Linked DNA regions of Homo sapiens: region 2 is linked to region 1. The links come from fine-mapping of genetic effects on gene expression. A gene starts in region 1. The other region holds a variant in brackets. All regions are shown on one strand. Distances are from middle to middle. Region 1 holds the start of ZNF213-AS1 (ZNF213 antisense RNA 1). Region 2 holds the start of ZSCAN10 (zinc finger and SCAN domain containing 10).

Region 1 (8,258 bases):
TATAATTTTATGCAAATTTGCCATATACCAGCAATGCTCAATAGAAAATACAGTTCATGTGCCACTTACCAATGTATGGCCTCTCAGCCCAAACACATCCTTTTCGTTCTGCTTTGTGATACTGAGCTGGATCACATCTAAGCTTTGGGTGAGATCCAGTGTGATACCCAGCTGGACCCTGTATACAGTTCCTTGCTAGCCAGCTTGATGTTGTTCTTCGCTAATACAGGGCGATGGATGAACACTGTCAGGTCAGAGCAGGAGGGAGGGGCTGTCTTCTCCACTGTGGCCAGCGGAGGGCAGGAGAGGTAACCAGCGGCCTTCAGTTCCACTGTCCTCACCTTGGTCCGGCTCCTGCCCTTTCCACTGTCCGCTAGCTGTGAGTTCTCGGGGCACCCACTCCCTCTTCTGAGGTCCAGTCTCCACCTTGAATTGAAAGGGGAAGGGCTCTTTCGTGTTTCCAAGTTTCCCTCCTTTTTACTTCCTCAGTCCTAAGGGCACAAGTTCCTTCCTGCAGTTGCTATTCTGTAACTCTTAGAAATCTCTCTTACCAGTTGGGTAGTTAACCATCTTTACAACTGACCAATTATTTTTATCAAATTTTCTCTTCAAAATAATGGTGTGGCCGGGCACAGGTGCTCACGCCTGTAATCCCAGTACTTTGGGAGGCCGAAATGGGTGGATCACCTGAGGTCAGGAGTTCGAGACCAGCCTGGCCAACATGGCAAAACCCCGTCTCTACTAAAAATACAAAAAATTAGCTGGGCGTGGTGGCGGGTGCCTGTAATCCCAGCTACTTGGGAGGCTGAGGCAGGAGAATTGCTTGAACCCAGGAGGCAGAGGTTTGCAATGAGCCGAGATCGTGCCATTGCACTCCAGCCTGGGCAACAGAGTGAGACTCTGTCAAAAAAAGAGAATATTCCAATGAAAATAACAACAGACAATTCACAAAAGGATAAATAGAAATAATACTGGAAAAAAAGAAAACATATCCAGCTTCTCTAGAAATCAAGGAAATGGTAACTATATTCATGGAATTTCTCCCATTGGGCTGTTGCACAGAATGAGCGCAAGACGTAAAAGACTTAGCTCAATGCCTGGCATATAAACACTCTATACATGGTAACTATCATGATTTAAAAGTTTAATAGGATGGGTGCAGTGGTTCTCACCTGTAATCCCAGCACTTTGGAAAGCTGAGGCAGGCGGATCCCTTGAGGTCTGGAGTTCAAGACCAGCCTGGCTAACCTGGTGAAACCCCATCTCTACTAAAAATACAAAAATTAGCCTGGTGTGGTGGCGTGCACCTGTAATCCCAGCTACTAGGGAGGCTGAGATGGGAGGATCGCTTGAACCTGGGAGGTGGAGGTTGCAGTGAGCCATGAAATTGCACTACCGCACCAAAAAAAAAAAAAAAAAATTTAATTACTGTGGACCTTATGGGGACGCTACATCAAGCTGTTTCCCAATTGAATTGGAATGCCACAACAACGGCTGAACACTGTAAATGTCCAAATCTGGAGGAACAGAGGAAGGTAAACATTTGATTCTCAAGTGGAAGTTCAAAGCATTACATTCTTTCTGGAGGACAGTTTGGAAACATGTACACAAAGTAATCTGGCAATTCCATTTCTAGTTTTTCTCAGGGAAATGTTCAAGCAAATGAATAAAGGTGTACGTAGAAGCATATCTGCAAATACAGAAAGATGGAAAAAATCTAAATGTCCAAGGGTGGGGGACTTAAAATATGAAAATTCCGCCAGGCACGGTGGCTCACGTCTGTAATCTCAGCACTTTGGGAGGCCGAGGCGGGCAGATCACCTGAGGTCAGGAGTTCGAGACCAGCCTGACCAACACGGAGAAACCCCGTCTCTACTAAAAATACAAAATTAGCCGGGCGTGGTGACACATGCCTGTAATCCTAGCTACTCGGGAGGCTGAGGCAGAAGAATCGCTTGAATCCAGGAGGCGGAGGTTGCAGTGAGCCAAGATCGCGCCACTGCAGTCCAGCCTGGGTGACAGAGCGAGACTCTGTCTCAAAAAAAAAAAAAAAATATATATATATATATATATATATATATACACACATATATAATATATATTCACAGGCATATAACTGTCTGAACAGTAAAACTGTAAGAACACACTAAAACATGAATAGTACTTATTCCTGGATGGTCGTATTAGAAATGTTTTTTACCTTCATTCATTAAACAAATATTTACTAAGCATCTACCATGTGCCAGGCACAATTCTAGGTGCTTGTCATAGGGCATTAAAAAGTGTCTGCCCTCATGAACACTTATCGTTGAGTCGTGGGAAACACGTATATGTCAGGTAGTGATAAACATTAGGGAGAAAAGTTAACGCCGAGCACAGGTTGTTTACAGAGCTGGGGAAGGCCTCCTTGAGGGGGTGACATATGAGCAGAATGAGGGAGCAAGCCTTGTGGCTATCACGAGAAAGCTATCTTTATGGTTTTCCAATTAATTTTCTAAATTTTCTCTTCCAAGCATGCAACACCTACATAATTAAGACAAAACAAACCAAAAAAACTCTTTCCATTTATGAAAGAGATCTGGAGCCTGAAATCATCTCCGGGTCGAGGCGTGGAGAGAGTGGGAGAGGATCCGAGGGTATGGAAAGGACCCCGAGCCCCCCTGCTCTAGATCCCTCCGGGCCGTGGGACCCCTGACGCCCAGCAGCAACTCGTGGACAAAGCAGCTGGTGAGAGAACGCGGGACTCCGGCCAGGTCAGTGTCCCGCTTGCCGCGTCCTGCTAAGGCGACCCGAAGACAGAGGATCGCCGCAGGAGGCTCCGCGCCCCTTACCCGAGGGCACTTCCCAGCAAGCTCGACGCCTCTCCAGGGAATTGGGAGGAGCGGGACCCAAGAGGCTAGAAAAGAGTCTCCCCGGCCCGAGCTCCACGGCCCGCGGCCTTTCGGCCCTCACCTACTAGTTGGCAAAGAAAGACCGTGGCAGAAGGAAGAGGCCGCTCCAGCGCATCCCTTCGGGCGGAGCAGAAGCTCCACTTGTGGCTAGGCCATGTGCCCTCTCCGTTCCTCGGGCCAGCCTTGGCTTCCCCTTTTTGTCGCTCAAGGGCCAGGGTCGCAAGGAAATGTGAAAAAAAAGCGGAGACAAAAGAGAACGAGGTAAATCTAGATGCAGAGCCTCGCCTTTCCTCCCGGGTGCAGGTGTATGACGCGTATGGAGTTTCTGTCTTCTAATAGGCAGCCTGAGAATTCTTCCTGTTCATTGGCCATCGGTCATGGAGAAGGCGGGCTCAGTGGACGAACGGCTTTCTGGGAGCTGGGGAATGCTTGCGTAGCGTAGTTTCCCAGCGAGCCCCGCGAGGACTTCCGGCGCCGGGAGCTCGCGGCGGAAGTGGGATCTCCTGGGCCGTAGTGGGCGTTGTGTGTTTCGGGGGCGGGGGCGGGGGCGGGGGCCGGGGCGGGGACGGGGCCTCTGGCCGCCTGGCTCCAACATCAAGCACCGGGCTCCGAGTGGCCGGGATCAGCGCCCCGAGGCAGAGGCCGGAGGGCGCGCGCACTGCTAGGAAGTGCTGGTCCCCCGCGCCGCTCTGCCAGCTTGGTCCCCCGGCAGACGCCCCTGTACGATCGCCGCTCGCCCCGCGGGCGAGGCTGCGGTGGACAGCGCGGGGCTCCGGCTGGCTCGCCTTCCCGCCTGCCGTGTCCTGCTGAGCGACCCTGGTGAGTCCTGGCCCTCTTCGAGGAAAGTCTTCTTCGAAGTCACCAGAGGATGAGAATGGTGCGCGCACCTTTCAGGGGTCTTGTGAGGAGCAGAATAAATAAAGTGCTTAGGATGGACTAAAGAATTGGAAACAACCCGAATGCATCACTCGAGTATTGATTAAGAAACTAGAGCATATCCATACCGCGGAAGCTCATAGTGCCGCTAATGTCTGTGCAGTAAGGTCTCATTTATGTAGAAACACATCAAGCACCTTTTCTCCCCGCTATGGATGACTTTTTTAGTAAAAGCACAGGAAAAGGTCTGGGACGTCATTTGTCAGACTGTTAAGTCGGGGGGTACAATGGTATTGAGGAAGGGAGAGTTTTACAGATTTCTATATTGTTTGAATCTTCCCTTTTTTATTAAGATGGTTTGTATTTTTTTCATTTTCTTTTTACTTTTCTTTTCTTTCTTTTTTTTTTTTTTTTGAGATGGTCTCACTCTGTTGCCCAGGCTGGAGTACAGTGGTGCGATCATAGCTCATTGCAACCTCAAACTCCTGGACTCAAGCAATCTTTCCTCCTCAGCCTCCCCAGTAGCTGGGACTACAGGAGCCCCACCTGGCTTTTTTTGTTTTTTGGTACAGATGGCGTCTCACATTGTCTTCCCAAAGGGGTCTTGAACCCCTGGCCTCAAGCAATCATCCTGTGTCTGTCTCCCAAAATGCTGGGATTACAGGCATAAGCCACCAAGCCCGGCCAGTTTGTATTTTTATTGTTGAAACAAAAAATCGATTACTGAAAATTGCATAATACACTTTTCAGTAGAGAGTAACAATGTAAGGTATAAATGTGTCATACATTTATATGTACCTGTGGATAAATGGCTTTGGATGGTGTCTGTAAGCCCTTCTGTGACACCTCAGGGCCAGATGTGTTTTGGAATTCAGAGGTTTTCAAATTTGAGAAAGATAATATAGTGCACAGACGATATATCAAGCACATCTCCAGAGGGATCTGGGGCAACACTAAATAATGAAACATATCAGTTAAAATTTTTTAATTAGGCCGGGCGCAGTGGCTCACGCCTGTAATCCCAGCACTTTAGGAGGCCGAGGCGGGTGGATCACAAGGTCAGGAGTTTGAGACCATCCTGGCCAACATGGTGAAACCTCGTCTCTACTAAAAATACAAAAAATTAGCTGGACGTGGTAGCTGGTGCCTGTAGTCCCAGCTACTTGGGAGGCTGAAGCAGGAGAATCGCTTGAACCTGGCAGGCAGAGGTTGCAGTGAACTGAGATTGCGCCACTGCACTCCAGCCTGGGCGACAGAGTGAGACTCTCTCTCAGTAAAAAAAAAAAAAAAAGATATTTAATTGATGTATAATGTGCAATACAGAAAAACACACGAGTGGGTATAGCTCAATGAAATTTTATAAACTGAAGATATATGTTATTAATATTTCCACCATAATTTTGAACATTTACATTTAGTGGAATAAATTGAGATTATAAATATGCTTATATCAGGTCAGGTGGTGCTGCCAAATGAATGACATTGGGTTTTGCTGTCAAAGAGTTATGAAACACCCGGGTTTTGGATTTCTGGCTTTGGGATGAGAGCTTGTGGGCCTGTGTTAATAGGAGAGACAGTCACATGAGCAAGGCATTACAGTAAAGCCTAGAAAAGGCTTCAGGGCCATGAAAGGATGGGGACTGGATGGCTCTTCAGCCTGGGGTTTGCTCGTGTATTCCACATCCTTCCTCCTCAGTCCTGCCATTTTGCTCTTTCCCCAGGAGTACACATCCAGATGCCAGCCCAGCTACCACAGGGGATCCCTCTGGGAGACTGAAAGTACAGGTTCTGGGGCCCAGGTTGAAGCCGACCAACCCTGAGCCTCAGGCCAGGGGAATGGCAGCCCCCTTGGAGGCCCAGGACCAGGCCCCTGGGGAGGGAGAAGGGCTTCTGATTGTGAAAGTGGAAGATTCCTCCTGGGAACAGGAATCTGCCCAGCATGAGGATGGCAGGGATTCCGAAGCCTGCCGCCAGCGCTTCCGGCAATTCTGCTACGGGGATGTGCATGGGCCTCATGAGGCCTTCAGCCAGCTCTGGGAGCTCTGCTGCCGCTGGCTGCGGCCCGAGCTGCGTACCAAGGAGCAGATCCTGGAGCTGCTGGTGCTGGAGCAGTTCCTGACAGTGCTGCCAGGGGAGATCCAGGGCTGGGTGCGTGAGCAGCACCCGGGAAGCGGTGAGGAGGCTGTCGCCTTGGTGGAGGACCTACAGAAGCAGCCAGTGAAAGCCTGGCGACAGGTGAGGGGCCCTTCCACATCCAGGGGCACCTGGATGGTATCTGAGCTCGAGAGAAGTGGGTAACCTGCAGAGATAAGTCTCCCAGAGGCTCACAGGGTAGGGGAGACACAGAGCCCCCAGGAGCAGGCACACAAGCACAGTGTGCCATGGGTGCCTTTCTGAAAGATGCGATCCAAAGTAAATGTGATTTATTTTTTGTGGCTTTGGAAGGCAGCAATAGGGCTGAAGTGCGAATGTTCCAGACAGGAGGTTTTAGCTCCATGCAGGGTCTGCTGATGTTTATTTGCATTTTGCTCTAGGCCTGGCTCTGGGGACACAAGGGTGTGCATAGAGCCAGCTCCAGAGTGGGGCGAGAAGGTGGAGCTGTCCGGGGCCTCTGCTACCTTGTGGGATGTTGGGTCCTTCACATTGGATGCATCTGGGGAGGTTCTAATGAGTGGCTGGGGGATGGGGTTCTGCCTTTGGCAGGAGGGTCCCCAGCTACCCCCTTGCTAAGTGGCTGTGATTCTGGCCTTTCAGGGCTGGTTCTTGCCTCGTGAATGATCGGGGAGCATCCTTGGGCACACAGCATTACCTGGTATCACATTCTCCTCCGGACTTTTCCTGGGGCACCATATTGGTCTCCTTCCCACACCCCAGCATCCTGAGGGTCATGTCCTGTGTCTCCTTCCCAGGGAGTAAACTCTGTCTCCCCCGGTCTGGTCTCGGGCTGATGAGCATGTTGTGGTTCCTGCACAGGATGTGCCCTCGGAGGAGGCGGAACCCGAGGCTGCAGGCCGGGGATCCCAGGCCACGGGGCCTCCCCCGACGGTGGGGGCACGGAGGCGGCCGTCTGTTCCCCAGGAGCAGCACAGCCATAGCGGTGAGTAAGCCTCCGTTCTTGTGGACAGTCGAGTGGCTGGGCAGGGACCTAGCTTTGTCACCGGCGTTGCCCTAAGGGTCACAGGCAGGACAGCTCCCTCTGTGAAGTCCAGGGCGTGTGTGCATGCGCACAGGCTGGGGAGGCCATAGGCGTCGGTGTCAAGCCTGGGCTGGCCTTTCTAAGGCTCCATTCTTCTCCTTCAGCCCAGCCTCCTGCTCTTCTTAAAGAGGGTCGTCCCGGAGAGACGACGGACACCTGCTTTGTCTCTGGGGTCCATGTGAGTCACCAGTCCCTTTGTCTTCTTTAAGGCACTTGGCCCTGTTGAGTTTGTAAAATGGGACTTGCTGTCCCATCAGGCCTCTTTCATCTGACCCATCCTGTCCCCGCCAGTGCTGCTGGGAGGCCTGAGCCGGGTCTTCTCACCCCATTCCAGGGACCTGTGGCATTGGGAGACATCCCATTCTATTTCTCCCGGGAAGAATGGGGCACCCTGGACCCTGCTCAGCGGGATCTCTTCTGGGACATAAAGCGGGAGAACTCCCGGAACACCACCCTGGGTAAGCACCCAGGGCCTTTGGGTCCAGGCTGGCCGCCCCCGATTCTGCTGGAACTTCAGTCTTGTTTCCCACCCCATCCTTAGCTGGTTCCAAAGCAGGCTCTCCCTAGGTCTTGCCAGGAGCCTGAGTAACTCCTTTCTTGGCTGATGATCAGTTTTTGTGCGTTTCCACATGCAGCATGGGACGGCGCCGGCGCTGCCCAGCCCTGCAGTTGCTCTAAGGGCAACTTCTCCTTTGAGTCTCACAACCTAGTGCATGGAAGTATTGTCCCCATTTTACGCATAAGGGACCTGAGACTCAGGTCAGTGGATGCTGAAGGGACACAGCTGGGACTTGGATCAGGCACAGTTGTGAGGCCACCTTGGGCTGCTAGGAGCAGGGGTGCTGACGGGGAACCCCAGCTGCTCACCAGCCTGGGCCCCTGCTCGTCAGAACTGCACTTACCAGGTTCCTCTCCATGCCAGGCCCCTTCTCAGCACCATCAGGGATCATCTTGTTCAGTCACACTCCCAGGAGGATGGGCTGCGACCTCTGTCCAGATCTGTGTTGAGTTTGGAGAACTAGAGCCTGCGTGGTGAAGGGAGCCACACTAGCTAGACCAGTTTGGCTCCTCAGTTTCCGACTGTGACGGTTGGGAAAAATTTTCTTTCTTTTTTTTTTTTTTGAGATGGAGTCTTGCTCTGTCGCCAGGCCGGAATGCAGTGGTGTGATCTCAGCTCACTGAAACTTCCACCTCCCGGGTTCAAGCAATTCTCCTGCCTCAGCCTGAGTAGCTGGGATTACAGGCATGAGCCACCATGCCCGGCTAATTTTTTTGTATTTTTAATAGAGACGAGT
Region 2 (8,390 bases), 40 kb before region 1:
GCCCTGGGGACCTGACGGCATTGGGGAAGAGGGGAGGAAGTGCTGTTAGAAGGCAGCCCTGCCTGCCATATGGCTGCAAGGACACACACCGCATCATCCGGGCCCTGTGAAGACACCTTGGCGCTCTCCTGTCCTGGTCACCTGGGGAGGCCCCACTTCTCACCCCACCCCAGACATCCAGGCCCCTCCGCGACACCCAGTCCTTGGCCTCCTAGGGCACAAGCTCCTCACTGCTTTCTTGCAGGGCCTGGAATGTCTTCTGGGGCCCCGGGCTCAGCGGCTGCTTTGAACTTGGGGGAAGCCTCCACTGTCCCGGCTCAGCAGGCTGGGCAGCCCTTGGCTGGGGTCGGGGAGGCTCATCCGATGGGCCCAGCACTGAAGGCTCTTCCGCAGGCAATTCCTTCTTGGGGCTGTGGCTGGGGACCTGGGAAGCACACCCCTTTTCCTCCAAGGTGACGTCTGCACGGGGACAACTCTTGCCAGCATTACAACTAAAATCCTGTTCAAAACACATTCAAGTTAAGTGACTCCCGGGGTGGCAACCTGTGTCCTGACTCCGAGGGGACATGGGACAGAAACGAGGTTAGAGTCAGCCAGGGGAGGAGTTAGGAGGTGAAGAAGGAATGGTCAGGTGGGGGAAAGTGAAGTTTCCAGAGATTCCTCACTGGGGGGATCAAGTCCCCATCATCCGCATGCTGCTCAGCCCGCTGCCCCACCCTCTCACCAGCGGCCCCGCGTGGCTGGGCTCCCGGTGGATGCCCTCGAGCAGCAGCACCACCTCCTCCCCATCCCTGAGCGGCTGCCCCTGCAGGCGGCCCAGGAGGTGCGGAGGCAGCACACTCAGGAACTGCTCCAGCACCAGCAGCTCCAGGATCTGTTTCTTGGTGTGCAGAGCCGGCCGCAGCCAGTGGCCGCAGAGCTCCCGGAGCCGGCTCAGGGACGCCCGTGGCCCCATGTCCTCCTGATACTGGAAGCATCTGAACAGCTGGTGAGCCACCTCGGGCCTCAGCCTGGACTCTGGTCGCCTGGGGTCCTCTGGGCTGACAGCCTCCTCCTCCTCCAGCTTGACTTCCCCCAGCTGCTCCTGCTCCACGGCAGCTGGGACTGATTCTCCAAGCATCCTTCACTGCGGGGATGCCTCCCTAACGCCAGCCCCGCTCTTGGGTCTCTCTCCTCTCCTCCCACACCTGCGAAGGTGAACACCCTGGGTTAGGATCTGCTGCGAGGAAGCTGGCCCCATACCTGGGTCATCCATGTTAAAAGACACCCAATACGCAGACCCAGAGGAATCGCTTTTCTCACTGGGTAATGGCTCACGAGGGCAGGACAGCCCCCGGTCTCAGGGTTACCAACAAAGCAAAGGCCAGAGAAAACTGACAGTTCTGTATTATCATCCCTCCTTAAAGCATTTAGAGATTTACATCACTTGGCCGGGCACAGTGGCTCACACCTGTAATCCGAGCACTTTGGGAGGCCGAGGCGGGTGGATCACGAGGTCAGGATATCGAGACCATCCTGGCTAACGCGGTGAAATCCCGTCTCTACTAAAAATACAAAACAATTAGCCAGGCTAATTTAGTCCCAGCTGCTGGGGAGGCTGAGGCATGAGAATGGTGTGAACCTGGGAGGCGGAGCTTACAGTGAGCCGAGATCGCGCCACTGCACTCCAGCCTGGGTGACAGAGCGAGACTCAGATCAAAAAAAAAAAAAAAAGAAATTTGCATCACTTTTCCCAAGTGATTAAAGTGACCATCCCTGAAAGAGAAACACCCTGCCCTTCCCTTCTTCCTGATGTAGCCACTGGGAGCACATGGCACCATCAAGATGGATCCTGGCCAAAAAAGTTTGTTTTTTAAAGCTTTTTTTTTTCTTTTTTTTTTTGAGATGGAGTCTTGCTATATCACCCAGACTGGAGTGCAGTGGCATGATCTCAGCTCTCTGCAGCCTCCACCTCCCAGGTTCAAGCGATTCTCATTCCTCAGCCTGGGTTTACAGTAGCTGGGATTACAGGCCTGTGGCAGCACGCCCAGCTAATTTTTGCATTTTTAGTAGACACAAGAGTTTCACCATGTTGGCTGGGCTGGTCTTGAACTCCTGACCTCAAGTGATCAGCCCACCTCAGTCTCCCAAATTGCTGAGATTAAGGCGTGAACCACTGCACCAAGCCTGTTTTTTAAATTTTTAATTTAATTAAGTAATTTATTTATTTTTTTGAGACAGGGTCTCACTCTGTCACGCAGGCTGCAGTGCAGTGGCGCAATCACGGCTCACTGCAGCCTTGATCTGCTGGGCTCAAGTGATCCTCCCGCGTCAGCCTCCCGAGTAGCTGGGACTACAGGTGCATATCACCATGCTGGGTTAATTTTATTTATTTTTTGTAGACACGAGTTCTCATTATGTTGCCCAGGCTGGTCTCAAACTCCTGGGCTCAAGTGATCCACCTGCCTCAGCCTCTCAAAGTGCTGGAATTACAGGCGTGAGCCACTGTGCCTAGCCCAAAAATACCTAATCTCAATCCAACCAGCCTTTATTTATTTATTTATTTGAGATGGAGTTTCACTCTTGTTGCCCAGGATGGAGTGCAATGGCAAGATCTCGGCTCACCGCAACCTCCGCCTCGCGGGTTCCGGTGATTCTCGTCCGTCAGCTTCGTGAGTAGCTGGGATTACAAGCACGCGCCACCGCATGCCGCTAATTTTGTATTTTTAGTAGAGATGGGGTTTCACCATGTTGGCCAGGCTGCTCTCAAACTCTTAACCTCAGGTGATCCGCCCGCTTCGGTCTCCCAAAGTACTGGGATTACAGGCATGAACCACCCCGCCCGACCTAATGGTGGCCTTTAGATCCAACTTCCAATGTTTAGGGCCTTGCAGGGAATATGGAACAAGTCAGACCATCTCTCAAAGAAATTGGCCTGAGTTACTCAGTGTCATAAAAAGTAAGTGCCTGTAGGAGGCGCTGGTGGACAGGAGCCCAAAGAGTCCTCACAACTAAGTGGGTGAACCTAGATTGGATCCTCATTCATTTTTCTTAAAGGCTTTAAAAGACATCCTGGGGCCAGTCGGAAAATGGTGAGTATGGTGGGGATACTAGATGATAACAGTATGACTACCCATTTCTGAGATGAAAGTCTAGTCTTGTAATATATAGGAAATGGCTGAGTTCTTAGAAGACGCTGAAGAGTTTGGAGAAGGGGCCTGATATATGAGATACATATATGAATGTTCATTTCACTGCTCTTTCAAGTTCTCTGGATGTTTTCGAATTTTCAAAATGAAAGGTTAGCGGGGCTGGCTCACGCCTGTTATCCCAGCACTTTGGGAGGCTGAGGCAGGAGGATCACTTGAGCCTCAGGAGTTCAAGACCAGCCCTGGGCAACATGGCACGACCCCCGTCTCTAAAAAAATTAAAAATGTAGGGCAGGGTGTGGTGGCTCACACCTGTAATCCCAGCACTTTGGGAGGCTGACGCAGGCAGATCACAAGGTCAGGAGATCGAGACCATCCTGTCTAACATGGTGAAACCCCGTCTCTACTAAAAATACAAAAAATTAGCCACGGGTGGTGGCGGGCACCTGTAGTCCCAGCTACTCGGGAGGCTGAGGCAGGAGAGTGGCGTGAACCCCGGAGGCGGAGCTTGCAGTGAGCCGAGATCATGCCACTGCACTCCAGCCTGGGCGACAGCGAGACTCCGTCTCAAAAAAAAAAAAAATTAAAAATTTAGCCAGTTGCTGGGGGCACTGAGTGGCTGACGCCTGTAATCCCAGCACTTTGGGAGGCCGAGGGTGGATCACCAGGTCAGGAGATCGAGACCATCCTGGTTAACACGGTGAAACCCCGTCTCTAATAAAAATAAAAAAAATCAGTCGGGCGCAGTGGCGGGTGCCTGTGGTCCCAGCTACTCAGGAGGCTGAGGCAGGAGAATGGCGTGAAACAGGGAGGTAGAGCTTGCAATGAGCCAAGATCGCGCCACTGCACTCCAGCCTGGGCGACAGAGCCAGACTCCATCTCAAAAAAAAAAAAAAAAAATTTAGCCAGTCATGGTTGTGTATACCTGTGGTCCTAGCTACCTGGGAGGCTGAGGTGGGAAGATTGCTTGATCCCAGGAGGTTGAGGCTGCAGTGCAGTGAGCTGTGACTGCAACATTGCACTCCAGCCTAGGCGACAGTGCCAGCCCGTCTCAAAAAATAAAAAATATAAAATAAGTCATCTATAGCCACCAGGAGGCACTGACATCCTCCCCCAACCTCCTCCCAATCTAGGGCTGTGGGGCTTCCCCTTCCTGGTCTGGTAGCCCAGTACTACCCATGGGGAACCTCCGAAATTTCGGCCCCACCCACAGGGGACTCAGTTCAGCCCTGCTCAACTAATTGAGGCTGGATGATTTAAGCTTTTCTGAGCAGAGCAGAGCAGGCTCATATTTTTGTTTGAGTCTCTTTTACATTTTATTTCAGGCAGGGGTCATTTTATAGACATGGAAATCCAGGCTCCTGCCCTCTGCTTTCTGCCCTTCCTGTTCTCTAGCCTCAGGGCTACAAGTGAACCTCTCCTAGAGCCTCCCACCCTCCACTCCCAGTTGGCACCCCAGGTAGGGGGATGTGAAGAAAGCCTGAAGCACCACTCCACTCACCTGAATGGCACAGGGCACTGTCCAGCATGCAGTGGCTGGCACACAGTAGGCATCCATGAGCACGAGCTATTACTGTTCTCATTGCTGCTGATTACAACACCAAGCACCGCAGCAAACAGTGACTCACAGTTCTGTTGGGCCCATCACTGACCCATTCTACAGCCGAGGACACTAAGGCTCAGCAAAAAGGTAACCCAGTGGCCGAGTG[C/T]AGTGGCTCAGGCCTGTAATCCCAGCAGTGTGGGTGGCCGAGGTGGATGGATCACCTGAGGTCAGGAGTTCGAGACCAGCCTGATCAATATGGTGAAACCCTTGTCTCTACTAAAATTACAAAAATTAGCCGGACGTGATGGCATGCGCCTGTAGTCCCAGCTACTCAGGAGGCTGAGAGAGGAGAATTGCTTGAACCTGGGAGGCGGAGGTTGCAGTGAGACGAGATCGTGCCACTGCACTCCAGCCTGGGCGACAGAATTAGACTCTGCCTCAAAAAAAAAAAAAAAAAAATTATCCGGGCATGGTGGCATGCATCTGTGGTCCCAGCTGTTCGGGAGACTGAGGCAGGAGAATCTCTTGAACCCAGGAGGCAGAGGTTGCAGTGAGCTGAGATTGCATCACTACACTCCAGCTTGGGCAACAGAATGAGAATCTGTCTCAAAAAAAAAAAAAAGTAACTCAGCCTTGGGCAGCCTCTCCCTGGTAACGATGGCCTAGTTGAGAGCCTTGGACAGTTTGCTGTACCCCCTTAATATGAGCCTGAGGGTTCCCTGAACCTCCTCAGGTGGGGTGGTGTTGTGGTACAGAATGGGGGATTTTAAGCTTAGCCGCTGAGAAGGAGGGGAGGTGATTCTAGAACATGACCCATCTCTCCCAACCTCCCTGCAACACACAGTATCTTCCAAGCCCCTCACCCCTACCCCGGCTCCCCTGCATCTCCCAACCTCAGCCACCTGGGGAAGGACTCTGACAAAATGGAACGGGAAGTTCCCTGCCCCAGTCCCATCCCATCCAGGTGTTGAGGGGCTTCCTAGCGTTAACCCTCAAGCTCCCAGTTTGGGAGGTGGATGGGGACAGGGTGGGGCCAGATAAGCGAAGACAAAGTGAGAAATCCAGATTTCAACCCCTGCATGTGTGAGAGTGTAACCACCCCCGAGCCGGAACTACGCTTTCCTGCCCTCTGGCATCCACTCCAGGCAGCCCCCATCCTCCCACCCCATCTCTCCCCACTAGGGCGATGGAGTGCCTCAATCACAGATGAGCGTATTTCTCTGCCTGGCCTGGGAGTAGGAGCTGTGTCTAGTTCAATGAGTGTTCATCCAGCACTTGAAGTTGCTTCAGTGTCTGTTAGCAGAAATTAGGGAATGGCAGTGATTCTGGCCATCTCGAAGGAAAGCATGTAACAACGTCTAGGACAGAAAAAGTCTGTGATAAATGATCAGAAAAATGGTGTTGTGAGGCCGGATGCGGTGGCTCATGCTTATAATCCCAGCATTTTGGGTGGCCAAGGCAGAAGGATTGCTTGAACCTGGGGGGTCAAAGCTGCAGTGAGCCATGTTCGCGCCACTGCACACCAGCCTGGATAAAAGGCGAAGACCCTGTCTCAAAAAAAAAAAAAAAAAAAAGAAAGAAAGAAAGAAAAGAAAAGAAAAGAAAAAAAAAGAGTGGGGGAGGGGGAAGAAAATGGGATTACGTTTCACTGGTTTTTAGTAGCATGCACAAAATAACAAGAAAACTAATCACTGCTCATCCATTGCCGTGCAGGAGCAGCGGGCAGGTACTGAGTGTCTGGCGATTAAGCTCATTTCATCCCAGTCCAGCCCACGCACGAAACAATCACTTCTCCCTTTGCCAAGTGCAAAGACCAAGCTTTGCACTTGGTGACATGCTCAGGGTCACACCAGGTGGAGCCAAGGTTTGCTTTAGGCTGAGAGTGTAGGTCTAGAACACAGTGCCAAAGCTCTGAAACAGAAAAGGAACTGATCTCCATCCTGCTCTGTGCCATTTTCCTAGCCTTAGCCGAAATATCACAGCATGAAACAGAAAAAAAATGAAGATTCCAAATTTCAGCTCTCAGGGCAAGCCACACAGGGAGGCCGGAATCTCCAGGTGAGATCTCTCCAAAAGGTTTCAAAGAGGTGGAATTCGAGACAAGTTGGCTTCAGAGAATCTCTCCCTCCCCCCAGATCTCCAGGACAAAAGCTCTGTTAATATGCACCTCTGTTGGGGGTGGGCTGGGTAGGGAGGCAGGCAGAGGCTCTACAGCCACCATCCAACATTTGAGCAGCTTAATTTGGAGCCCGGGGTGGAGGTGCTGCCACGAGACCCACCCAGGTCACCTGAGAGCCCAGAGTTGGGGAAGGCGGCAAAGGTGGGGTCCTCAGCCGGGAACACTCCCTTTCTCCCTGGACACAGTTGGCAGCTGCCTGATTTGTTGTTTGTTGGAGGGGCCTCCCTCCGCGTGCTGGGCTGAGTGGACAAGGCCCATCAGTCCACCTGGGAGCACGTGAAGCCAGCCTTCTTCAATGTCACAGGAAGTTCTGCGATCTCCCTCGTCCCCAACGCCCCCATCGCGACAGGTCCACCAAGCTGGCTGGCACGAGGCTCCCCAGCAGACCCTCTACATCCTCCCAAGACTCTTCCAGCCCCCACCCCAGCACCAAGGCCTGGAGCCTCCCCTGCTCTCTCCAAGCTGCTGCGAGCTCCTAGCACCCGTCCTGGCAGCCTGCACCCCGACCTCCCTCCAACTCACCACTCGGAGTCCCCACTACACAGGCAGAGATGCTGGGGGGTTTTCTGAGGACTCCAGGGCCAAAGCCAGCCTCCGCCAGCCTGGGGAAGGGCTCTGGGAAAATGGAACAGGAAGTTCCTTGCCCCAGTCCCATCCCATCCAGGTGATGAGGGGCTTCCTAGAGTTAACCCTTAAGCTCCCAGTTTGGGAGCGGGATGGGAAGAGGGCGGGGCCAGTGACATGAAGACAAAGTGAGAAATCCAGATTTCAATCCCAGCCTGTGTGAGAGTGTAACCACCTCCCAAATCAAGACTGGCCTGGTGCCCCTTGCAGGTCTGCCCGTCTTTCCTTTGGGCTAAGAGCTGCCATTTTTAAATGCCCACAGTGTGCTGGCTTCTTTGCTAGGCTTTTCATTCACGTGACTACTCTTTGCAATGGCCTCCTGTGTGCCAGGCACTGTTACAAAGCAGGGGCTAAGGACACAGAGAGAAACTGAAGGAATGAGGCCCTGCTCTCAGGGGCTTACATTCTAGGGCAAAGGAGCAGCGACGGTGCTAGGAAAAAATGGAAGAGGAGGATGTGATGGGGCAGAGTTTGCTCCATCTACACGGTCACCTAAAGTCCTCCCAAGTCCTGCCAGGTGGCTTTTGTCCCAACTTTACCGATGACGAAGCAAGGGCTCCCCGGGAGGGAAGTGACCTAACCAACAGCGTTTGGCCCCAAACTAATTCCATCCCTGTGCTTAAGGTGCCTTCTTGGGTTGTGCCCTTGGCTGCAGCTGGTGCCTTCCTGAGCGTTCTGAGCCCCCGGGGAGCCAGGACCACCTCTCAGGTGTTGGCCGTTCCCCCGGCCTAGACCCCTCGGTCCGTTGGGGCCAGGACCCTCCTGACTGGCTCATCTGACGGGTCTTTGTTTTCCTGCACTTAACACCTGAGCTCATCCTGTTCCTACTTCAGTTGTCTAGTGCTCCCTTCGTACGACGGTCTTTCTCCTTGGTCTGCTCTGCATTCCCCGCGTCCCGCGCCTCGCTCTCCCAGTC

The links. PIP is the estimated chance that this variant, and not a neighbour inherited with it, causes the effect. A credible set is the group of variants that fine-mapping cannot tell apart.
Region 2: its variant is the best candidate, but not a certain one, in a credible set for the expression of ZNF213-AS1 in whole blood (INTERVAL, PIP 0.77).

The regions. Positions count from the first base shown.
Region 1 is chr16:3,131,678-3,139,935 of GRCh38, forward strand. ZNF213-AS1 (ZNF213 antisense RNA 1) reads right to left here and starts at 3,205. Exons shown (of 6, transcript NR_110900.1): 1 at 2,953-3,205; 2 at 1,173-1,265; 3 at 342-426. It overlaps ZNF213 (zinc finger protein 213), which reads left to right and starts at 3,352. Exons shown (of 6, transcript NM_004220.3): 1 at 3,352-3,710; 2 at 5,489-6,002; 3 at 6,741-6,864; 4 at 7,068-7,141; 5 at 7,298-7,421. The coding sequence starts at 5,604. RefSeq lists enhancers at 2,933-3,102, 3,113-3,302, 6,787-7,287 and a silencer at 3,413-3,642.
Region 2 is chr16:3,091,818-3,100,207 of GRCh38, forward strand. It overlaps ZSCAN10 (zinc finger and SCAN domain containing 10), which reads right to left and starts at 7,477. Exons shown (of 6, transcript NM_032805.3): 1 at 7,373-7,477; 2 at 725-1,187; 3 at 232-499; 4 at 1-11. The coding sequence starts at 1,120. RefSeq lists enhancers at 897-1,484, 8,230-8,279 and silencers at 1,170-1,363, 2,855-2,924. The variant C/T (reference allele first, on the strand shown) is at 4,838.